4 linked regions of the Homo sapiens genome follow. The protein of the gene in region 1 interacts with the protein of each later gene in a pairwise test. Each region holds a gene or a part of one and is shown on either strand. Other genes may lie near its edges. The genes, in order: PLEKHB2, GLIS2, UBAC1 and YOD1.

The links.
Region 2: the proteins of PLEKHB2 (region 1) and GLIS2 interact in binary tests that used the Homo sapiens proteins (3 or more experiments, as listed by UniProt).
Region 3: the proteins of PLEKHB2 (region 1) and UBAC1 interact in binary tests that used the Homo sapiens proteins (3 or more experiments, as listed by UniProt).
Region 4: the proteins of PLEKHB2 (region 1) and YOD1 interact in binary tests that used the Homo sapiens proteins (3 or more experiments, as listed by UniProt).

Annotation. Positions count from the first base shown.
Region 1 is NC_000002.12:131,143,310-131,150,344, reverse strand, and holds the end of PLEKHB2 (pleckstrin homology domain-containing family B member 2), read right to left. Parts: intron 5,938-7,035; coding exon of another isoform or gene 5,896-5,937; intron 3,709-5,895; coding exon 3,572-3,708; 3' UTR 500-3,571; downstream 1-499. UniProt on the Homo sapiens protein: Involved in retrograde transport of recycling endosomes.
Region 2 is NC_000016.10:4,319,046-4,326,080, reverse strand, and holds part of GLIS2 (zinc finger protein GLIS2), read right to left. Parts: intron 1,434-7,035; exon of another isoform or gene 1,306-1,433; intron 812-1,305; exon of another isoform or gene 727-811; intron 1-726. UniProt on the Homo sapiens protein: Can act either as a transcriptional repressor or as a transcriptional activator, depending on the cell context. Acts as a repressor of the Hedgehog signaling pathway. Represses the Hedgehog-dependent expression of Wnt4.
Region 3 is NC_000009.12:135,951,350-135,958,384, forward strand, and holds part of UBAC1 (ubiquitin-associated domain-containing protein 1), read right to left. Parts: intron 4,067-7,035; coding exon 3,946-4,066; intron 2,405-3,945; coding exon 2,331-2,404; intron 1-2,330.
Region 4 is NC_000001.11:207,043,314-207,047,019, forward strand, and holds the end of YOD1 (ubiquitin thioesterase OTU1), read right to left. Parts: 3' UTR 536-3,706; downstream 1-535. UniProt on the Homo sapiens protein: Hydrolase that can remove conjugated ubiquitin from proteins and participates in endoplasmic reticulum-associated degradation (ERAD) for misfolded lumenal proteins.

The sequences.
Region 1 (7,035 bases):
TGAGACTCCGTCTCTAAATAAATAAATAAATAAATAAATAAATAAATAAAACAAAAAAGTCATATATCCAAAGATGCTGGAGAAGTTATTGGACACACACTGCCAGAGGGATCTGGTTGGGAAAAATAGTGTCCGTTTTCTCACAGCCATCCCAAGAGTGTGACTGCACGGGCCACTGCTGTTTGTGGAAATCAAATTCTCATATGCACACGGCACAGGGAACAACAAGGCGTTTTAACATCAGATGTGGAGACCTACTACCTGCACGCTCCTGAGTAAATTATTTAACTTCTGAGCCTCGGTCCCTCCAGTGGAACTTGGATAATACCTCCCTTACAGAGTCACTAAGAATTCAGTGAGTTGTCTCTAATGTGACAATATACTAGCATTTGGTAGGTCCTCAATAAATGGCATTCTTATGATCCAGGACAGCAGAAAAAGCTGAGAGTATGTTACTACAAAGTAATTTTTTAAAGACAACAGAAGTCACAATGAAACATGCTTTAAGGTTAATGCTTTAATGTATTGACATTTTCACTTACAAATGTACAATTTGCGTATGTAGGAAAAAATCAGTTCTCTAGACACAACAGAATACTACTAGAGACGGGAAAGCAATCACAAAAAGATCAACTCTGGGGAGAAAGTGGAACTGCATTCCATGCCTTGTATCTACATACACTAGGGAAGGAAAAAGAAATATTACACAGGATCAAAACTTGTGGAAAATACACTTGGGTCATTTTGTCTCAACTGCAGGACCTTCTTATGATCCAGATGGCTACCTTAAGTCCTGGATAGCCTAAAATGGGCAAAGTCTGGCCTTGTTCACAAATGATGATCCAAAACATTAACCACAGTTCTCCTTCTCTTTAGTATCCAAGACCCTGAAGTTGACTCAAGGAATGAAAAGAACAATCAGATCAGCATGTATATAATATCATTGGCCAACTTCTTCAAGGTATGGATTATTTAAAAGTACACATGGAAGTAAAATGCTTACTCAAACCTGAATAAGAAGTTTCTTGTAACTCAAGCACTTCTTGACTCACACTAAGTGTAGCACTGTAAACAAAAGACATCGTTGAGAAACTGAGGCTATCAAAACATTGGCATCTATGGGAGTTGTGGCCAAGGAAATAAAATACCTGAGCAACCTTATACCCAGTATGCATTTCATACCAGGATCAAGTCACTAATGACAGCCAAGTTCCAGGCTTATCTATGGCTGCCTAATGAGACTGGCCCCACTAGGATGGGGACTGGGGAGGGGACACACATGAGTGCCCAAGCTTCAGTCTACACCTCCCCCCTTCAGCCAGAAGCAGCCAGGGGAGCACAGGGACATCTGCTTCAAGAGCATTTTGGCAGCAAAAATCAATACTCTGTGGTTCCTGGAATTCCCACCCAGTAATTCCAAGTTCAAAATTACCACCAGTGCAACATGAAAAACTGTTAATAGTTTTTAAGTAAAGTGTACATACAGCTTTAATAACGATTATAATCTGAAGAAAGCCATTCTTCTTATACAGGATGGAAAATCCTCAAAGCAACATTTTAAACCATGGACACTAGAGTTGTCATACATCTATTCAGAGATGAGAGATAAACAGACATCCTTCCATGTGGAAACAGACACTCCCATGTCAACAAGTCCCCTAGGATCAGAGAGAAAAGCAGACCCGTGGTCATCACTAGGTGTCTCTGGTGTCTCGCTAAAGATGGAGTCCTATGTAGGTTGGCCTAAGTTGGCCTCAGAGGGAGGTGGCTGAGCAGCAAAGCAAGACAGCATGTGTGTAACCAGCCAGGCAAAATAACAAGTCTGTGCTACCTGGAGTGTATTTTCAGGAAAACAGGACCATATGGAGTGTGGGGCAGGGACATTCGCTGTGCTAAACTGCCACTGTAAAAGCACACTGTTGAAAGCATGCAGGACAGAAAACTGCAATAATTCAGAGCTTGAAAACAAGAAATAACAGAAATATGAATATTTCAAATACACACTTCATATACTGAAAATAAGAGCATTTGAAGAAAGGCTGGAATGGGTTTTCCAAAGACTCACACATTTTGGGGTTCCAAATTCAATGTTCTAAGCTTCTCTATCACAAAGAGATCAAGAACAAAAGCAAAGCTGGGGGTCCTGGCCAGGCTGAGTGGTACCTTGAGCCGGTCCCTGTGTCCTGAGGGTCCCTGGGCCCCATATCCCATCCATAACCCAAGTCTGCTCAGCTACAGTCTGCCCTGGTGCTCAGTGAACAGCCACAGAGTCCCACTTCTGCACAGGATGGGCCTTCAGAGTGATGAGAGAGCATCTCCCGCACAGTGCAAACCCCCAAAGGCCAGAAATGGGAACGCTCTAACTAAGGCTCTCCTTCCACTCCCTCACTGTTCCTTTAATATTACTCTCTCAGCAAGTAGAAAAATAGGCTATAAGGAGGCTTAGGCAGACACACACTCAAACAGCCTCTTGGAATAAAGCAAATCTGCCTCCACATACTTGTTTGTATATTGTTCTGGCTTCTCCAGGATTTTTTTTTTTTTTTTGAGACAGAGTCTCACTCTGTCACCCAGGCTGAAGTGCAGTGGCACTATCTTGGCTCACTGCAAGCTCCGCCTCCTGGGTTCACACTATTCTCCTGCCTCAGCCTCCCGAGTAGCTGGGACCACAGGCGCCTGCCACCACGCCCAGCTAATTTTTTGTATTTTTAGTAGAGATGGGGTTTCACCGTGTTAGCCAGGATGGTCTCGATCTCCTGACCTCGTGATCCGCCCGCCTCGGTCTCTCAAAGTGCTGGGATTACAGGCGTGAGCCACCGCGCCCAGCCAGCTTCTCCAAGTTTTAAAGGATTAAAGCCCTCAAACTCTCAGGCTTAAATCAATTCCTAATGTGGGATATGTTCTCCAAGTATGCCTACCAAAGCCATACAAGAATAAAGTGAGCAGCAGCAGCAGCTAGGGTCAGGCAGATTTCTGAAGCATGATTGTTCAAAGGCGGGCTGTGCCCCATCATCCTGAGCCATCGGCCTTGCCAGGGGCCTGTGGAGCCCCAGAGGGCAGGACGGGGGCTCTCACACCATAGCCTCGGGAAGTACCTGGGAGCTTACCAACCCACAACTCCTAAAGTAACATGCAACCAGTTCTGGTCTGTGGTTTGAAAAAGTTAAACGCAAAGAAGCTGTAGCTTTTCTTGCCACAATCACTCAATAGGCATACAACACTATATTACTGGCATAACATGAAAATAAATTAACCCTTAAGCACTACACCTAACTCTAAAAAGAAAATGCCTTTCAAAACAGGTATGCTCAAATAAGGTATTCTGAGAGTTGCACAAGAACAGTCTTGGAATGAGCCAGTGCCCCCGGAGAGTCAACATTTGAACAAAATAGCACAGTTCAAACCCTTCTCTGTGGTACTTATGTGGATTAGTACAATTATGACATCACTACTTTCAAAGGAATGATTAAAACTATTATTAAAAACTTTTGTCACAAACAGAAATGCCCTGCAAATCATATTATTGCACACAGGGTTATCAGAAGCTATGCACATCAAGACCTTGAGGCCCCTAGAAGACCCAAAATAGAGACCCTAAGGCCATGCCCGTGGCTGCTCCTGCCAGCATGCCCAGTGCCAGGTCGCTGTCGTTGTCTCGATAGCGCTCTCGAATGATGACTTGGTTAGCAGGCTGCTGTCCATAAAGTCCTAAAAGAGAAGGAAAATAGCAGATTTCTGAGCAGCGGTTTGTGAAGTTTAACATCACGCAAAGTACCAGTTCTCCTTTCACAAAAGGGATCTGCTGTCTCCTGTCACACTGGCGACCCAGCCCTCCTCCACAACAGGCACATCATGTGGCCGACATCCCTGAAACCGCACACTGGGAGGAAACCAAGATCCTCAGCTCACTAAGGGCCAAAGTCCCTAATCTGCAAAAAGCAGAACCCTAATGAAGCTTTCAGATTCTAGCCTCTGATTTCTACTTCAGCCCTCGACACCATGCTTATTGGGTGGCAGACAAATGGGGAACATGGGAGACACACAGTGCCCAACAAAAGCCCAAAAAGGAAATGCTCACTTAAAGCAAATGAGCTTCTTAGTATGCACGCAAACCAATTTTTAAATTAAGCCTTAAATCTGCACATATAACTTTTTTTTTTTTTTGAGAAGGAGTCTTGCTCTGTCCCCAGGCTGGAGTGCAGTGGCATGATCTCAGCTCACTGCAACTTCCACCGCCCAGGTTCAAGCTATTCTCCCACCTCAGTTTCCTGAGTAACTGGGACTATAGGCGCCCACCACCACGCCTGGCTAATTTTTTGTATTTTTAGTAGAGACGGGGTTTCACCGTGTTAGCCAGGATGGTCTCGATCTCCTGACCTCGTAATCCACCCGCGTCGGCCTCCCAAAGTGCTGAGATTACAGGCATGAGCCACCACGCCCGGCCCGGCCTACTCTTTTTTACTGCATGTCTTTATAGAGAAAAAATAAATATTTATGTTAGAGGTGAAAACTTCAAAAAAACAAACCACAGACAAATTTAGTATTTAATTTGCAAGATTAAAATTTACAACTGGAAATATACTGTTTGCTCTCTTCCATGCTTCACAGCTATAATGCCTAGTAGCTAAGTAGCTTTCAAACTGCTCAGGTATTAATAGCGTTAACTTTCCTCCTTGATCCTCTATTCCTTTAATGGTTCAAAGGCTGGCTGGCCAGGCTTGATGGCTCACACCTGTAATGCCAGCACTTTGGGAGGCTGAGGCAGGTGGATCACTTGAGGCCGGAAGTTTTAGACCAGCCTGGCCAACACAGTGAAACCCTGTCTCTTAAAAAATTACCAAAAAAAAATTAGCCAGGGGTAGTGGCGCATGCCTGTAATCCCATACTGAGGCATGAAAATTGCTTGAACCTGGGAGGCGGGGGCTGCAGTGAGTTGAGATCCTGTCACTGCAATCCAGTCTGGGCAACAGAGTGCAACTCTGTCTCAAACACACAAAAAAAGAAAAGAAAAAAAACTAGTCACTAGTGATGTGCACATGTGGATGAAGAGCAGAAGTGAAACCCGCAGTGGTAACAAAGGTGAACATTTCCAGCCACTTACAGCACTACATACATTGGAATGCTCTTACTCAACTGAGTGCACTTTTATCCCTATTTTGCAGATGGGCAAACTGAGGCACACAGCAGTTAAGGACAGTAAGGGCACACAAACCCAGGCACTCTGGCTACAGTATGCATTTATACCCACTAATGCCTCAAATACAACAGAGGATGATGAATGACAAAACTCAAAAGGCACAGAGTAGTACAATGAAACCATCGTAAATCTAAGGGCTGATCTGGTACAGGTAACAGTACTGGAAGCAAGTGATTATTTTTGCAATGTTTAAATTTCAAAACTAGGGAATTACGGCATTTACTTTCACAGCCCTGACATTTTAAAATGCTCAGTAATGTTAACTCCAACTAGCCAAATGTAACACAATAGAACTTGTGAGCTGACCTAATGAAAAGGTCCCATGGAAAATCTACATTCTGATGCCCCTGCAAGTCATGCTGAGGTCCCCTGGCTGCAGGACCAGGCCACTCTCTTGTGGCTCCTGCTGAGCTCTGCTCCTGCATTGAGCTCAGTCCTTGCCAGAGTCAGCTGTGGATGCTTCCAGGTCACACTTATTATAATTGCCTAATTTAACTAATATTACATAAATGGTCAAAATGTGAATGAGAAAAAGGCAGACACAGTTTCTATGGCAACTAAGATACTACAGGAAAAACTAAATAAAGGAAGGTTACTTTTACAAATTACCATCAAATCAGGGAATTAAGAAAACTATAAAAGATGGGAGGATGGGAGGACTATAGTCCCCAAATCTAGAAGTCTGCTCTTGGACTTACCCCTGGAAACTGCAGTGCAATGACGTGTCATGAGGATGGTCTCTACAAGACAGAAATAGAAGACTCCAACCAAAGGAGCCAACTCAAAGCAAACACCTCAACCCCACATTATAGGAGAGCCGAACGAACACCCACTAGCGGGTTAAATCACAGCACAATGTTTACAATACGTCTACAGTACTCTGTACTTTCTCAATTGGCTGACCAACCACTGGTCCCAATCACACTGAAGAGAGAGCCTTAACCAGCTCTGTGCATGACTAGGAGGGTTCTTGTGGACTAGCTCTAGGCAGTGAGACCCTGGCAGACAGGATGGCATGGAGGTGGCAAAGCACCCATCTGGTTGTCAACACAAGCTGCTGTGTATCGACCACAAACCCATTTGACCCTTCCACAGCAAGCAAGTCTGGGGGCTGCCTGGTCACCACTCTGAGGCAGGCTGGCCATAATGCCTACTGACTCAGCCCCTTATGTGGGCGGCAAGCATTCCGAGTACTGCCTGTGAGAGTGCTACTTCTACTCTACTGACGAGAGCCAAGGGCAAGGATGGACTCATTTCCAGAAGTGCCCTAAACAACCACGTCTGCAATATCTGTGCTCTCTATACAGTAAGAAACAGCGGCAACAGCCCTATTCTGTGGGCTGGAAGCTGAGAAAGAGGCTGGCTCTCATGTGGCAAGGCTAGGGCTTAAAACTCTCCATCCCATGGGATCCCAACAGAAAAATGTGCAAAGGAAAATTATTCATAAAAGGTGATATAAACTAAAGCAACTCGATGATTCCACTTGAGACCTACTGAAGCTATCAAAACTTTTAGAGCACAACAGGCCATCTTTATGGGATCACAGATAAACCACTGCATCAGTAACTGCTAGTGGCATTATAAGTTGGTAAACCATTCTGGGATCAACTTGGCAAAATGCTATCCAGATTTAATGTAATATTAACAGATGAAATGATTAAAAATCTGGGATGTCCCTTAAACTAATCCAGAGGTAGAGAAAGGAGGCTGAGGTAGAGATAAAAGATTAGACATGATATGGTTAACTGCTGAAGCCAGTGATGGACATATGATAGTTCATTATACCATCATCCCTATTTTTTATGTTTGAAAACGTTTACATTTTTAAATCATATCCC
Region 2 (7,035 bases), on another chromosome or scaffold:
TTTTTTAGTAGAGATAGGGTTTCACCGTGTTAGCCAGGATGGTCTCGATATCCTGACCTCGTGATCCGCCCACCTCGGCCTCCCAAAGTGCTGGGATTACAGGCGTGAGCCACCAAGTCTGGCCTTTTTTTTTTTTTTTTTTTTTTTTTTTAAGACACAGAGTCTTGCTCTGTCTCCCAGGCTGGACTGCAGTGGCGTGGTCATGGCTAACTGCCGCCGAGGCTCAAGAGATCCTCCTGCCTCAGCCTGCAGAGCAGCTAGGACCACAGGTGCACCACCACCACACCCAGCTCATTTTTAAATTTTTTATTTTGCAGAGATGGGGGGGTCTCCCTGTGTCATCCAGGCTGGTCTCGATCTCCTGGACTCAAGCCATCCTCCTGTCTCTGCCTCCCAAAGTGCTAGGATTACAGGCAGGAGCCACCACGCCCAGCCCGTCATCTTCTAATTTAACAGAAAGAGGAAGTGAGTCCCTGGTCACTCCTGAACCAGTCAGAGAAACCCTGGTCTGTGGGTGTCCCTGAGTCTATTACTGGAACCATCACTTCAGCAGTATGGTCTTACAGATGGGGAAACTGAGGGCTGAAGGGGGAGGCATCCAGCCCAGGCTGCACAAGTAGGTGGCAAACCCACAACCAGAAGCCACGGGCAAGCAGCATGAGGACAGTACCCATAGCCAGGTGCGGGTACTGTGAAGGCAGGTGCTGTTTCATCCCCATTTTACAGATGCAAAAACTGAGGCTCAGGGGAGTGAAGTGACCCATCCAAGGTCCCACAGCTTGTCCGTGGCAGAGCTGGGTTTCAACCCCAGGTAAGTCCAGAAGCCATGTTCACTATTGGCCCTTCCTATGTCAGGGGCTCAGGCTTGGTACCCCCTCCCCGCCCAGGGACTTGTGGGGCTAGGAGGGATAGCAGAGCAGGCAGTGGGTGGGCGCTGGAGGGGCTGGCTGGGGTGGGGGGCCCACCAGGAGGCTTGGAGAGCCGAGGGCAGATCTGCTGCCAAAGCAAACGGCCCCACAGCCCCAGATTCCTGGGAACCAGCTGCGGCTCCCTGCTCTGGCCAAGAGCTCCACCCTCCTTGGCCGCCCAGCAGCAGGGGCTGGCGGGCAGGGGCAGGGCCTGCTGGGGGCCCCAGGCAGGAGGGCTCGTCCTCTCAGGGCCCCCCTTCCTGACCAGGCAACAGAACCGGACTCGAAATCTGGGGCCCCACCCGGCTCTGCTACTCCCTTTGCGTGTCTCTTCAGTCTGCGCCTCATCCCCCTCATCCCAAATGGGATTATATAGGACCCCCATGTTGGGTTTCAGGGAGAAACCAATGCAGTGCTGCACATCCAATCACTATTGAGTGCTTCTCCTTCGTCCGTAACGTTCAGCACGGAGAACAGTGCCTGGCACATAGTAGGTGCTTAATAAAACGTGCTGAATGAATCGTCGCCAGTGTGCATGAGTCCATAGCCTTTGGCCCATCTACCGCTGTGAGGGCAGCTGAGTGGGGACTGGCCATCCCCTCTATGCCACTGCAGTCTCACCCTGAACCAGGAGAACCTGGGCTCTGCCACCTGCCAGCCAGCGTGCACCCTAAACAAGCCTATGCCCCTCAAAGAACCTCAGGCCTCTTCAATCCTGGGGAGTGACCACAGCTGGCCCTAACCACCTTCCAGAGCCCAACTGCATCAAAGAAAGAGCACTACAAGGCCCCGGGAAGGCCTGATCAACCCTGGAAGGAGCTGGCCGCAGACAGGCCTCCTCCCAGGACTGGAGGGGGAGGAGCTTATCCTGAGGCCTGGCCCAGCAGATCCCAGGAGAGGGGCCAGGGCAGGCGGCACTTCCTGGAAGAGTGGGGGATTCACCGTCCCTGGGAACCTTTGGCTCAGTAGGCAGCCCCTCCCCCTCCCAAGACGGGGCACTCAGCCAGCACCCCCGGACCTTTTGGGAGGGCAGACCCCCTCCCGGGGTGGGAACACAAGGGGTCCGAGGTGACCCAGCCAGGGCTGACCTCTGCCCTCTGCCGTGGGGTCCTCGGGAAAGCACCTGAAGATGGGATGTGCCAGGGATCTTTTTTCTGCGTGTTCACAGAGTGTGCCCCAGGGCCAGGCTGCCTGGTTACAGCCCCCTGTGCCACCCCTGGCTGTGGGAACTCAGAAAGGCCCTGCTGTCTCTGAGCCTTGGTTTCCTTGTAGGTAACAGACACCACGGCAATGGTCCCTGGGACTCAGGGCATCTTGCAAGGGAGGGCCTTGTCCTCATGCCTGCCATAAAGAAGCTGCCAGCTACTGGTAACCTAAAGGATTCTTGTTTCCGGCCCCAGGCTGGGGGTTCCCTGCACAGCAACTTGGGCCTGCCAAGGTCACCCAGATAATTCAGGCAGAGCTGAAGCTGGAAGACGGGCCGGAGGGCTTCCCTGGCCTGCACCAGCCCGGGCTTCCTAGGAGATGCCCCACCAGAGGCACTTCCTTCTCCAACGCCAGCAGGGAGGGTGACACCGGGCTCCGGGAGCCCCGGCACACACACGCACACTCACACAGATGGCCATGGCAGTCCAGCTGCAGGGCCGGCCTGGCACAGAGGCCTCCCCATCCTGGTGGCTCCGGGCCCCTGCTGCAGTGGCCTCCACCCCCCCGCTGCCTGCCCGCTGCTGCACCTTTGCACAACTATGTCTGGTATTTTCCTGTCTGCCCAGCTTTGGGGGGGTGCTTGGAGCTATGATCACCGCCTGCACCTGGGCCCCAGCCAGAGGAAAGCCCGCCCCGCAGCCCCCACACCTGCCCACCCACCCGGGCTGGGAGGGGAGGGGACCAGAGCACTGGGCCCTGCCACCCAAATCCCTGGGAGGGGCTGGCACCAGGGAGCGAGACAGGGATGCACGCCCAGCAAGGCTGGGGCACAGACAGCCCAGGCCCTGCCAGGCGGCACTGCCATTCTCAGCAGACCCAGCCAGAGCTATCTGAGGCCAGCAAAGGGATGGGCCAGTGTAGCACAGGACATGAGCAGGCACCCACAGCACCCCCGGATGTACAGACACCTGTGCACAAATGTGGCACACACAGGACATCACAGTAACCCCTTGCCCCAGTGTCGGGGCCAGGACTCAGGAGCCTTGGCTTCTGGGGGAGAGCAGGGATGAGGCCGGGTCCCCAGAGCGAAGGAAACACCGCGCCTCCCAAGCCACGCCTGGCTGCAGGCAGATCCCACAAGGAGCTCCTAAGTCCTGGGGGGTCGGGGCAGGCCCGTGGCCCACGCCTCCCCTGCCTGGGGCCAGGTACCAGGTCCACTGGGAACGGCACCCGCCAACTCCGAGAGCAGGAGTGGGTAAGGCGGGCGGTGGACCTTGGCCTGCCCTCCTGCCTCGGTTCTCCAACCACGCATTCATGCATTCCAACGCCAGGCCCTGCTAGATCGAACCGGACCTTGAGGGTGCCCCGACCAAGGTGGGGTGGGAGAAACAGTGTAGGGGGGGGGCTGCTCCTGCAGGGGGTTGGGCACAGATCCGGGTCAGCCTCATGGATATGGGGTGAAGAGCCTTGGGGAGGTGGGAGCCCTGCGGGTCGGCGCCCGGTCAGCATGCCTGCTGCACACAGTCCATCACCCTGATGACCCCGCGAATGGATGCCATTTTCCCCATTTTCCATGTGGGGAAACCTGCCACTGTCACAGCCAGCAAGGGGCACAGCTGGGTTCGCCAGCAGACCCCAAAGCCCAGTGCCACAGAGGACCAGAGGCTATGGCCCGGCTGATCTGCAGTGACCCTACCAGTCATGGAGTAGACGAGGAGGCAGGAGAGAAAGAGGCCCCTCAGAGAGGCTGGGACAGAACCTAGAGGGCACTGGGGAGCCACAGAGGGCTCTACACAGAAGAGTGCCACCTGCTCTCTCAGCCCAGAGCCTCCTGCCCCAGGCCCTCTCCTTTGGCACCCCCCTTCCTCAGGATCCCCTGCCCCCTGGGAACCTGATGCTCCCAGGTGCCAGCTCCTCCCTCACCACCATCCATGCCCCCCTGTTCTCTTTCCTCCAGCCACCATCCCCTTCTGCCCCCTCCTCCACCAAGTGCTCCCTGGTTCACCCTCCCCAGCCTCGGTTTCTGGAGCTGCACACAGGCTGTGGGTCCAGGTACCTGAGGGCCTGCTGGGCAAAGACTTGCCTCTGTCCACCCCCGCTGGAGGCAGGCTGTCCCGGGTCCAAGTCCTTGCCAATGCATCACTGAAGCCAGTGTCACCTGTGCACAGCGTGGTGTACACAGCGCCGACCTTCAGCCCCAGGCCTCCCACTGGCCCTGGTATCCAGAGCCTCCTTCCAAGAAGGGAGCCTGGGAGTGGGCCGGGACATGTCTGGGACGCCGGGCAGCTCCAAACCCGCTGTGGCTACTGAAGAGAAGGCCTCACCAGCAGACCCCTGCCCCAGTTCCCACGGCCCCTGGCACGGAGCCCACCCCATCCACCAGAGTGAACTGGGCAGTGAGGCAGGGAACCCAGAATGAGAAAACTAGGCCTGGGTTTCCCCATCCACAGGAGGGGGCCTGCTGAGAGGACAGCCGAAGCTCCAACAACCCCAACCACTCATCTTAGGTGGCACAGTGGTACCTGCCCTTCACATATCCCAACACCTGGCACTCCGCGAATGAGTCCGTCTCATTCATGTATTCATTCACTCGACAGACATTCCCGCCTTTACCCCCAAGTGAGGAGGGGAGGGGTAGGTATGGAGGGGTTCGTGCCCAAAGAGGAATGTGACTTGCCCAAGGTCAAGGCTAGAAGCAGGGGCTGGTCTCCTGACATAGATGCCTCTTTCTCCCTGTCCCAGGCAAGGGACCCAGGAACAGAGCTGGACAAGGGTGTGGTGGCCCCTAGGAACCACCCTGGCCAGCTGGGATGGTGGGAAGGGCCCAGATCCCCCCCAGCTCCATCTCCTGCCACGCCCTCCCAGCCCTGGCCCCCAGCCCCAGATAGCTGGGCAAGAGCAGGCCCAGCAGGGCACCGCACACACAGGACTCCAGCCCATGCCCTCCTCCTCAGCCACCCGCCCCTCTCTGCTCGCCTACTCTGGAAGAAAGCAAGTCCAGAAGCCGGGGACAGCCTCCAAAGCCATCGAGGTCCTTTTCCTTCCAAAGGGGAACACCCACTGGCAGGATCTGCCAGGCCTGGTGGCTCCAGGCCCTCGGGGCCCAGTGGCCCTAGAACCAAGCAGGGTGACCACTAGGTGCTCCGGGGGGTGCTGGGGGAGGCCGGGGCTGGCAGGGAGACGAGCACCAGCACAGGGTTGGGGGGACTTCAGAATAGGGAGGACAATGGAGGCCCCTACAGCCTTGCGGGGAGGGGACATCCCAGCTCAGAGTCGGTCTGCCTGGAAGTTGGGGTGGGGAATGGGGGCTCTGGATGAAGGTGGGAGTGGCCCAGGGGAGAACTGGCCCAGGCAGGCCGGGACTTGCTAGACAGCCCCAGGCAGACGATGCAGGGAAGGGGAGAGGCTTCTTCCAGACACGTTGGCCCCCGTCATGCCCTTGCAGTGGACGTGGGGGGCAGGAGTGGAGCTGGGGGGATTCCCAGGCTAAACCGACATTTCAGGGGTCAGGGCCAGACAGCCCCAGACTCCAGTTCCCCTCTGTTCTTCCCCGATTGGGAGTGACCTCGGGCCAAACCCTCAAATGTCTCAGAGCCTCAGTTTCCCCCCACCGGCCTCCGACGACCTCTTGACTACCAGGGTCCAAGCGAGGCTGCCCTGGGAGCGTGCTGTGCCAGCGGTGGGGACCCTCCATGTGACGGGCAGGACTGTTTTCCGGAGGCTCCCGGCCGGGGGCTGACTCAGTCCACTCAGCGGTCTCCTGGGGCCTCTGCTGGCTTCCCACCCGCCCTTGGCCATGACTGGAGGAAGGGGCCAGGGCTGGGTCTCCGTCCCTTCCCCGGCAGCCATCTGCCAAGGCTGGAGTCCGTGTGCACGCACATGTGACACTCACAGGCCGGCCCCTCCCTGCGGTGGGCACTACCTGGCCTCTCAAGCACCGAAGACAAAGGGCACGAGGAGCCCAAGTCACCCGCCCCCCAGCCATCGAACTGGAAGAGTCTCAGCCCCCACCCATCCCCCAGCAGGGGCTGCTGGGGCAGATGGGAAGCCCCCACCCCTCAGCTGGAATCACTTCCCATCTCCATGCCCCCCAGGCCCACTTAGCCTGGCCACCAGCTAACCAGAATCCTCCAGCCCATCTGGGGGAGTGGGGGAGTGGAAGGCGAGTACCCGGCCTCCGTGCCTGCCCAGCCTCACCCAGGGGCTAAGCCGGAGCCAGGAGAGAAACCTGGGTCTCCTCCAGGCTGTGCCCTGCAGACCCTGCCACCATCATCACCATGATCCCTCTCCAGTCCCTGGGATCAAAGCAGTGCCCCCACGCTGGCCCCCCAGCAGAGTACTAGAGGTGCTTGTTGGAAGCGCGGAGTCCCCGCCCCCAGCCACGCCTGACTTAGAATTCACCAGGGTGGGGCGGAGGCGGCCACCTCAGAAACCACTGAGAGGCAGATGTGGCCCGGGAGACTCGCTAGGGCTGTGGTCCCCACACCCAGGGCTGGCAGCAGGCTGGGGCAGGGCGCAAGTTCCCAGAGACGTGAACCCCCAGATACACATCAGGGCCTCAACCCATCTCTGTGGACCCTTTCATAGCCCCTGGGAAGGGAGGCAACTTAGGCAGAGGGTGGAGAGCATCTTTCAGCTGGTCCCACAGATCCCCTAGCCAGCAGGGAGAGGGTCTCTTACTGCTCAATACACAGCCCCGCCAAGCTGGGGATGCCCCCTACCCCTGAGAAGGGCATTTATCTGGGTGAGGGGAAGACCACCCAGGACCTTCCGGGGTTCCCCTGTGGTCTCAGTCACCTGCTGTGAAATAAAGTAACAATTATAGCCATGAGGAGAGGAAGGGATTCAGGGGACACTTTTCTCTGCAGCCACCCCCGCCCCAATTCCACCCAGCACAGGGCCTCTCCCATGGAATCAATTTCCTCCTTAGGTGCCAGAGACCCCTGGGCCTCCCCTTAGAGGCAGGAACCTTCGGAGGCAG
Region 3 (7,035 bases), on another chromosome or scaffold:
TGTGGTGGCACACACCTGTGGTCCCAGCTACTCGGGAGGCTGAGGCAGGAGGACTGCTTGAGCCCAGGAGGTCAAGGTTGCAGTGAGTTATAATTGTACCACTGCACTGCAGCCTGGGCAACAGAGTGAGATCCTGTCTCTAAAACAAAAACAAAAACTAAATTAAAAATTAATGTAGGCCAGGCGCAATGGCTCATGCCTGTAATCCTAGCACTTTGGGAGGCCGAGGCAGGTGGATCACCCGAGGTCAGGAGATCGAGACCAGCCTGGCCAACATGGTGAAACCCCATCTCTACTAAAAATACAAAAGATTAGCCGGGCGTGGTGGCACGCACTTGTAACCCCAGCTACTTGGGAGGCTGAGGCAGGAGAATCGTTTGAACCTGGAAGGCGGAGGTTGCAGTGAGCTGAGATCACGCCACTGCACTCTAGCTTGGGTAACAAAAGCGAAACTCTGTCTCAAAAATAATAAAATAATAATAAAAATAATAATAATTAATTCATAAAAATATGAACTGACATCTTACAATGTTTCAGTTTGCAAATATTTGAAGAGAAAAGGTAAGCTCCTCAGGTTAGCTCCAAGCTACCCATCCAAGAGGCTGTGGGGCAACGGGTGTATGGTCAGACCCCGCTGTTTATATTAGTTACGGGCCTGTAAGTCTGAACACCAACGGTCAAACTGTAATCTGAGAACTGTGAATGCTGCCTGCAGCAGTTCCCAGAAACAGGCCTGACTCAGGGACAGGCGGAGGCAGGCCCAGATCTGTCCGCTGCAGATGGGTGGGGCGGCAGCCTGTGTGTCACTCATGCGTGGCCAGGTGTGGCTGAAGATAAGGAGGGGACCCAAGCCCAGGGTGCTCTTCCTGGGTACCCATGGTCCCAGATGAAACCCAAAAATAGCTTATGCACTACCAGGCATGGGCCTAGCCCAAAAGAGTTTGACCTGCTCTTTCTCTGGGGTGAACACTCTCCTTAGCCTTTCAAAGCACGAGTAAGAAATTCTACCCTTGAGATGAGTAATGCAAAGACAGCAGAGGAAAGTGGCTGCCCTTCTAGCTGGCAGGCTCCATGCTCGGCACGGGCTCAGGCCCTGCTGTGGGGTAGGACACGCCACTTGCAGAACGCATCTTCCTCTGCTCAGTGAGCTTTCCAAAACATGAGCTTCTAGGGCAGCCAGTAAACAACACACTGCACGGTGTTCCTAAGGTACACGTGCAAGTGGACGGTGCAGACCATGAATCAATAACGTGTGAGTGAATGTAAACACCAACGACATCCAGTTCTGTTTTGCAAGAAATAGACAAGACAGGCAGAACTCAGCCTCTCTCAGCATTAACAGTGCAGCTGAGTATCCCTCATCTGAAATGCCCGGGACCAGAACTGTTTCGGATTTCGGGTTTTTTCAGATTTGGGAATATTTGCATTCCAAATAATCAACTCAAAAAGCACCAACGAGCACTTCCATTAAGTGTCATTTTGGCACTCAAAAAGTTTCAGACTGCGCTGCATTTCTGCGTTTGGATTTTCCGATGGGGATGCTGAGGCTGTGCGGTGTGAGGTGGGGCTTGTCGCGAGTGCTCCCTCACCGGCCACTCTCTGCATGCGCAGCCCTTATTCTGTGTGGTGGTTGGTTACCCACTTTCCTCCGTTTTTCTGTCAGGACTGACTTGGCTGCTTGAAAAGAGGAGGGAACAGGAGCACACGCAGGTGAAGGCGGACAGCAGCGCGGGAGTGAACCGTCACGCAGGATGTGTCCCTACCCTCCTCTCTGTCTCAGAAAACTCAGAGGCAGGTTTTCCGTGCTGGTCCCGTGAGCAGGGAGGGACCAGGACTGACACGGATTAAACAGGCTCTGCCGGGAGAGAGAACCCCTTATAACCACATCTACTGTAAATGGCGAATGCGTGGGTTGGTGAACAACTAGTATAGAGAACTTCTTTATAATTCTTTTTTTTTTAAGTTTGTATTTATTTATTTAATTTTGAGATGGAGTCTTACTCTGTCGCCAGGCTGGAGTGCAGTGGCACGATCTCGGCTCACTGCAACCTCTGCCTCCCGGGTTCAAGAGATTCTCCTGCCTCAGCCTCCTGAGCTGCTGGGACTACAGGCATGAGCCACCATGCCCAGCTAATTTTTTTTGTATTTTTAGTAGAGCCGGGGTTTCACCATATTTGCCAGGATGGTCTTGATCTCTTGACCTCGTGATCCACCCGCCTCGGCCTCCCAAAGTGCTGGGATTACAGGCGCGAGCCACTGTACCCAGCCTGTAATTCTTAAATGTAGACTTCTACCAACCAAGGTCCCCAATTGCAAACTTTGAAATTTACCTTTTCTTCTGCTGAGACATCAGCCATCTTGGGAAGTGGTGATGGAGCACGCTTTTTTATCAATAATAGGACATCTAGAAAAAACAACACGTATATCCAACACACTGGTTATCACTTCATATCCACAAAATGGCATAAAGGGTGCTGGATGCCCTGAGAACAGAACAGCAGGGATTCGGCCGGGCGCAGTGGCTCCCATCTGTAATCCCAGCACTTTGGGAGGCTGAGGCGGGCAAATTACCTGAGGTCAGGTGTTCAAGACAAGCCTGGCCAACACGGTGAAACCCCATCTCTACTAAAAATACAAAAATTAGCCAGGCGTGGTGGCGCATGCCTGTAATCCCAGCTACTGGGGAGGCTGAGGCAGGAGAATCACTTGAACCTGGGAGGCGGAGGTTGCACTGAGCCAAGATTGCACCACTGCACTCCAGCCTGGGCAACAGAGCAAGACTTCATCTTAAAAAAAAAAAAAAAAAAGAAGAAGAGCAGGGCTTCAGCTGGGTGCAGTGGCTCACTCCTGTAATCCCAGCACGAGGCAGGCGGATCACTTGAGCCCAGGAGTTCAAGACCAGCCTGGACAACATGGCGAGACCCCATCTCTACGAAAATATAAAAAATAGTTGCGCATGGTGGCACATGCCCGTAGTCCCAGCTACTTGGGAGACTGAGGTGGGAGGACTGCTTGAGCCCAGGAGGTCAAGGCAACAGTGAGCCTGACTGTGCCTCTGCACTCCAGCCTGGGTGACTGAGCGACACCCTGTCTCAAAAGAGCATGGGTTCCTTTGGTCCCCCCAAACCAAGCATCTACACCAGCCTTCCCTCACTTTTGCATGATATCTGCATGGCCCTAGCTGAGGTACAAGCTCCCAGGCCTGGCACGAACCCCCAGGTGACCCATGGCCCAGGAGGCAGGCACAGCACGGCCCCAATAATTGTGCAAAGAATTGGTGACAATCCTGCAACAGGCATTTTAACCGGCTCAGTTCTGAAAAAGTCTGTGAGGGTGGAGAGTTTAGTCTTAACCCTCAGAGGTCAAAACCTGAGATGCAGCTCATCCTCGGCCCACGACGGTGCCCATCCCCCACTGGCTTGGAGCTTGATGGTCATCTCAGCGGATATCTGTTAGCAATACTTCCAGGATTTTCAAAACAGCTTACTTCAAGGACTTCCACAATTAAAGGCATTATTTGAATGACACAGACAAAACTGATGTCTGCTCTTCAAGTGCCTCCAGACACAAAACCATAAGCAATTACATGGATGTGTGTGTCTAACACTGCACTGGGATGCCAACATCACCACAACGAAGGTGAAACCTGCAGAACCCCTGGAGTCTCTGGCTTTGCTCTGAAACAGAACTAAAAGCAAAATTCACATTTGGCTTCTCAAATGCCTGCTGCTTGTTCAATTTCAATTTCTGCTGTTTTTCACAAATACTCTATAACAGAACTCTTTTTAATAAAGGAAAAACAGAATGCTTTTAGTCGATCTCGTTTTTGTGCTCGTGTCCAGCTCAGAACACTGACTCCTGTGGGTGGACCACCCCCTCCTGGCTCCAGCGCCCCCAGCAGTGCACGATGCCTGCTGCCAACCCGCCCGCCCACAGCAGCCTTACCTTGGTCCTGGATGTTCTCTTCCAGGATGGTCCTGGCATCACTCAGCACCCTCTCTGAGGCAGCGTGGATTAATTTATGATGGGTTATACTTTTGGGATCTTCTAAGCTCCCATGAGCACACTGGGGAAAAATAGAAATTTCAAGGTAGAAAATAAGTAAATCGTAATTCTAATAATATAGGACCTGGCATCCCAAGCTACACCAGGAATTTACTGGGTTTTCTTATGAGCTAAGAAATTACACCATGGATGAAATTAAAGAATTCCCACTAATGGTAGATGCCAAATGAAGCATCATAGCACCAGTGAGCTGATCCCCAGCCCATGGAGTACTCCTGAAGCAAGCTCCCAGCTCTGATATACCACACCCTACTGACAATTCGCGGCCACCAGAATTGCTTCTTTGGTCTAGAAAGATCTGGAAAATAATTTTAAATGAAAACAGCAGATCCATTGTTTCCTGATGACCTAAAGATCTACCTAAGTTTTGGGTAGCTGTTTTTCTTTTTTCCACAGACGCATGAAAGGGGCCAGAAAGGCTGCCCAGAAAGAAGACTGGCTCACAGAGAGCCTGAGATGGGGATAAGAGGAGCGCTCGGCATGACTGCTCTCAGCTTGGCTCAGCTCACTAAGTAACAGCCATGCTGCATCCCGAGATTGGGATAAGAGGGGCACTTAGCATGACTGCTCTCGGCGTGGCCCAGCTCACGAAGCAACAGCCATGCTGCACCCCTGGGCGGCTTGAAGGTGGACCAATGGGCACGCAGTCACCAGGGCCCTGGAAACCCTGCCACACCCGGGCAGGGAACGGGAGGCAACACATGGGTAGCAGTGAGGGGATCCCCTTCACACACACCACAGCCACCTCCGAGCAGCGCTCACGGGGGACCTGGGAAGCCATCTTGACAGCTACTGAGTGCAAACTCCAGGAGGAAGTTGGAGCAGACGGCCATGACCCCTTCCAACCCTGCCATTACAAAGATCTCACAGCCAACTGCTGGCAGGGGTAGATCCTGCTCCTCAATTCGGCCAGCATCCTCTCTGCAAAACAGCACACAGCTGTCCCTGATTCATGCACGTGGCACTGGCTTGCGGGAGTCCTGCTTTCCTTTGAACACGGGGGCTAGGCGCGTCGGCTCACCATTTTGTGAAGAATGGCAAACACTGATGGTGCCGTGTGATGAAGACTGAGGTCGGCACATGTGCCTGCATGTTCGTGCCCAAGTCGGTCCAGAGCTCCACGACTCCACTCTATTATCTACCTCAGCACCATACAGCCCGACACACGACAGCACAGCACAGCACACCACCGCACAGCACAGCACCGCACACCACACCAAACAGTGCCCACCTAACCAAATATGGCGCCTCCCCAGCCGGAATCGTGGGGTGAGAGGAGAGGGGCTGCACTTCTGTGTTTCACAAAATACCCACAGTTTCCATAGCCTGGCCTGAAAACCCTTCAGAACTCAGAGCTTGGACGGAGAGAAGGCTGACTATTTTCTTGCTCTTACAGATCCCCTGAGGTTTGATGGTAGAATTACCTGACTATCAGAAAAGGATGAAACCCTCACTGGGCACTTTCTAAACCCGGTAGCAGGCTCAGCCTGTGGGTCAGGAGCATGGCCCAGCCTGGAGCTGGGCCGGGGCACCACCCCAGGACAGGCCGTCCTCGGACGTCTCAGGTGGCCGGGCAGACGCCCTGCTGGCAGCTCACTTTCCACCACCCTTTGCTGCCACAGAGGCTCTGAAACACCCAGCACACACAACTGCTTGCTGGGAAAGAAAATCTAAGCACACACTTCACCTCTCAACACTGGCATTTTCAGAGTAACTGGAATTTCTGTTACTCTCAAGACTGAAAACGGTTTTGAAAAAGGGATTGACGGCTTCAGGGGCTCACTCCTTCACACAAAACTGGCCAGGCTGAGGGGATGTTGGGGGGACGCAGCTACTAGGAAGACACACTCCTGCCATTTACAACAGGGCAGAGAACCCTCAAGTGCCTCTGGATTTGACAATGGCTCTGCTCCCTGAAATACTGGGGGTGCTTCCTCATGATCCTAAAGTTTGCAGGCTAGTTCATTTGTCAAGTTCAGAATACAGACTACGAAATGCAGTTTTCCAAAATAATTCTCATACTGATTCCCAAAAAACCCACAGTCCACGTGTCACCAGCACACCAGGAACAACACGGAAGCACTAGGACGACCGTGTCACTCTGCTTCTTTGTTCTCGGCAGAAGCTGGGGTATGGCAGCAAAAAAGCCCCAACCAAGGCCGCTGGAGTAGGGAGGCCCTCACACCCCCACCCCACTCCATCCTGCTCCTCCCCAGAAGAGTAGTGACTTCGTTTCTGCTTGTACCTGATGCAACCTGCCATCTGAGGACCCATCTTCATGCGATCTAGGAAATGGAAAATTTAACAGCTATACTAGCGGGTACTCTCTTCTAGTCTGGCAATTTTATGAACTCCTTCTTTTTTTTTTTTTTTTTTTAAAGACAGGGTCTCATTCTGTCACCCAGGCTGGAGTGCAGTGGCGCGATCTCCGCTTATTGCAACCTCCGCTTCCCAGGTTCAAGCGATTCTTGTGCCTCAGCCTCCTGAGTAGGTGGGATTACAGGAGTCCGCGACCATGCCAGGCTATTTTTTTACATTTTTAGTACAGAAGGGGTATTGCCATGTTGGCCAGGCTGGAATTTCATGAATGTTTACGACACACCAAAAACTCTACTGCACCACAGGTATAATTTTCTTTTTTTTTTTTTTTGAGACGGAGTCTCTCTCCGTCGCCCAGGCTGGAGTGCAGTGGCTTGATCTCGGCTCACTGCAAGTCCCACCTCCCAGGTTCACACCATTCTCCTGTCTCAGCCTCCCGAGTAGCTGGGACTACAGGTGCCCGCCACCACGCCCGGCTAATTTTTCTGTATTTTTAGTAAAGATGGGGTTTCACTGTGTTAGCCAGAATGGTCTCGATCTCCTGACCTTGTGATCTGCCTGTCTTGGCCTCCCAAAGTACTGGGATTACAGGCATGAGCCACCGTGCTCAGCCAGGTATAATTTTCTAAAACTCATTAACTACCTGTTGTA
Region 4 (3,706 bases), on another chromosome or scaffold:
TACAAACTGATTAGATATTATTATACTTCCACGTCCATAATTTTAAAGCTTTCAATGAGAAAGAATGGGTTAAATAGTTTAGTTTAGTTAGGGAACCTGAACTCTGGCCAATTGTAATAGCCACAGGGTTGCTTCAAATACATGTTTAAATGTTGACATTGCCAAAGATGAAATAAACCCTCCTATAGTGATGTTGCTGTTTTCAAACAGATCTAAGTTCACAAAGATTGCAGTCTATTAGAAAATAAATATTAAGCCTTTCCACACTGACAACTTGTCAGCAACAAATATTGAATTACAACTTGTAGGATTGGATTTAGAAAAAAATTTAGTCAATGAATGGGAATTTCAACCTTTCGTTAAGGAGAAATACCTTAGTTTCTCCTGTCTCATTCATTGAGTCCGCCTAAAGGGTGATATTTGGCAGATTTTGGTACCTTAGTTAAAGATTCGGTAAGCTTTTGATAATATGTATATTGAGTAAAATAGCCGTTCAGTGGCCATATCTGCCCTGATCCCAAAATATACTCAAACAACGTTTTCACTTCATTTATTCCTTTGAAACAAGTCACTTAATACAGCATTTAGATATTTAAAGTCATACACCTCATAAATAAAATCAATGCATCTTAATGACAATGGCAAAATCACATAAGAGTTGTAGAAAATGAAGTTAGACATCTTCCAGGTAGCAGCAGTGTATTACTTCAAAAAATGCTGGCAAATAGGCAAAACATTTTTAAAACAAGAAAACACTGTCCATCTGCATTAAGAAAAAATATTTTCTTATGCTGTTTTGCCCATCCCTACTTTTTCAAGTCATATTCTAAAGCTCTAATTTGACGGTCTTTACTTGTGGTTTTCTTTTTGCGTTAGGAACCTCTGTCTCTACTGCATTAATACAGAAACTATAGGAATATTGTTGTTCTCTAACCCTTTTCACAAACTATTCATATTCATTCTGTATTTAGGCTGAATTCAAATTTTTTTCAAGGAAAAATACTATTCTGCTAAGTACATATTTCCTGTAAACAGCTGGAGTCCTGAATGGCACCAATGTGACTGGAAAACTGACAAAAATTAGGTCCCCTGGTCCTTTAAGTAACTTACGGGCTAATTACATAGCCTATACCAGTTTATAAAGTAGACTCATGTAATCATATTAGAAATTCTGAGCCTAAGATGATCCTTTCTGTTTACCTACAACTTAATCAAATTATATCTTCACCATTCCTAAACTCCTATATGTTGGTTAGTACTTTTAAAAACATATGTATAAAAGGGCATCATGGCAAAATGCTTATAATTCATGGTTTCATACTTTAATGATAAGCTTTTTCACCTATGGCCATGCTACATTCTATGACAAGAAATGGGGAAGAAGGGTTGAGTTGACACAAAGGCATTGCTTTAAAAATGTTTGGAAAAGGGTAATTCATGACTAGGAATGCATCTATTTGACAATCTCTTCTTTATCAGTGGTACTTTGTCTTCTTGGCCCTTTTCTCCCTTCACTCTACCATGAGGGGGTTACCAACCTCCTTTAAATGTGTATGAATCAAGACCTAAATCAGCACCCTACAATTCAACATCAATAATAATTTTAAGTCAAACATTCAAAGCACTGTAAGCAAAATGCTAGATAATTTTGAGAAAAATAAACACTCTCCCACAACCAGGGACACTTAATATTCTTTTTATGTGGAATGAAATGTGCTGAAATACTGTAACATAAGAAAACAGCTTTAGTTTATAAACTAGCTTATTCAAATCAAGTGTTTCACTTTGGACTTAAAATGATGCCACTTGTATATGACACGTTTAAGGCCTCTGACTCAAAAATCAGCTTCCTTATAAGTCTGCTTGGAAACAAGTTTTAAGGATCGAATCTTTTAGAAATTATCAGTCATCTCTGCACTACAAGGACAAATTTGAATACTGCATTGTATAATAATACAAGATATTCACATAATAATAAGTAACATTTTTAATGCTAGGGCACAGACCATGCTCCTAATAGTTACTGAAATTGAGTTCTACTGTTATCAAAACACCAGAATGTTGTGCCAATAGATACACTCTACACTGATGGCAATCTTTGATTAAGAAGAGCTGATGGTTAGTAGCTCAAGAATTGTACTTTAATGTCCTTAATTAGATCCCTAGAGGGCCAACATGTAAACTTTTATTCCATATATATTTTTTAAAGTGCTGCAAACAAATGTGTCTCCACACATGAAAGAACATAATTCTTAGTATGTTTAGGAAGGCCACCTGATTTGTCAAAAAAAAAAAAAAATCACTCTTGCTTAATCTTGCATACTTCCCATTCCATTTTTTTTCCCAAAAAGATGTAAGAAAACTATGTTTAGCTTAGGGCAACTTGCAACACCCACGTTTTAATCCCTCCACAGAAGGAATAAACTAGAGAAGCAAGTTAGGCATGGGCATTTAGGGACACAGACAAATTAGATAGATAACATAATGTTAGTTAATTCCTCATTATTATTTTGCTGGGACTTCATGGAATAATCAAGCGGCATGACTACATTAGTTGTTAAAAACAGGGTCAAACTGACCAGCAGTCAAGCGTCAAGGGTACCACTTGACTATGCTAATTTCATGGGAAACAATGAAGAAATCAACCATGAACCATTAGCAAAAGATGGAACACACTAATGTCTTCACTTGGCTAACACATCACAAAATTTCCAGGTATGTTAAATTTTAGCTTCTGAAATCACTTTATTCAGGAGTGAATCTTCATAGTACTACACCTGACCTTTAATCCAAAGAAAAGTAAGAGAAAGGAAGAAGGGTGGGGTGGGAAAGTGAGGTCTTTATTCACTTTGCCACTAATATAAACTGTCATTTTAATTTTTAAAAAAATTCCTCTATGGCAGGCAAAAACTCAATGAATAGGAAAGATTTCATTCTGCTCTAGTACAAAACTTAAGACATTTAATCCTCCTGAAAGTTGTAAGTCCATAGATTTTCAAAATTCCCAAGATGAGAATTTACTCCCTTTAATAACTAATTCCAAGAGTTTAATAAGCACAGTAAAAAATGAAAAAACAAACAAACAAAAAGCAAACCCCTGTAAATTCTGTGAGGCTTAAAAGCTTGAGTTTAGAATGAGCAAAGGTTTAGGTTTTTAATCCTCAATAATTAAATCAGATGGTCCACAAATAAAGCTTCACCTTGAATTTTCCAGGATCAGAACACTAAAGTACTAGTGCTAAATTTCAGCAGACTAAAGAGTCATTTTTGAAAGGAATTTGACAGAGTATCAGTGTCCAACCGGTAAATGGACAACCTAGATAACAGATAAAATACAATGAAATAAGATCCCCTGAATAAATACTTGACACTTAATATGTAAACAAAGCCCTTACAATGAAGGGGTTTAATTCTGTAAAATATCAGTGTTCTATTCCTTTCCATTTGTTAAATTTACCCACTGTAGAAAATATATACTGAATATAAAGTGACAGAAACTTATGTTGGAACATATCAAAACATATGACAGAAACATATCAAAACATGCCTGGCACAGTATAAATTACTCAATAAATATTTGTTGCACGAATAAACTTCTAGATCTAAAGCTGTAGTAAGCAAATGTCAACTCTGTGTCCTGAAGTAGCAAAGAAAGGAAGGCAAGCTTTCTGAGTAATGATGCATAAAGCTCAATTTGATAATTGTT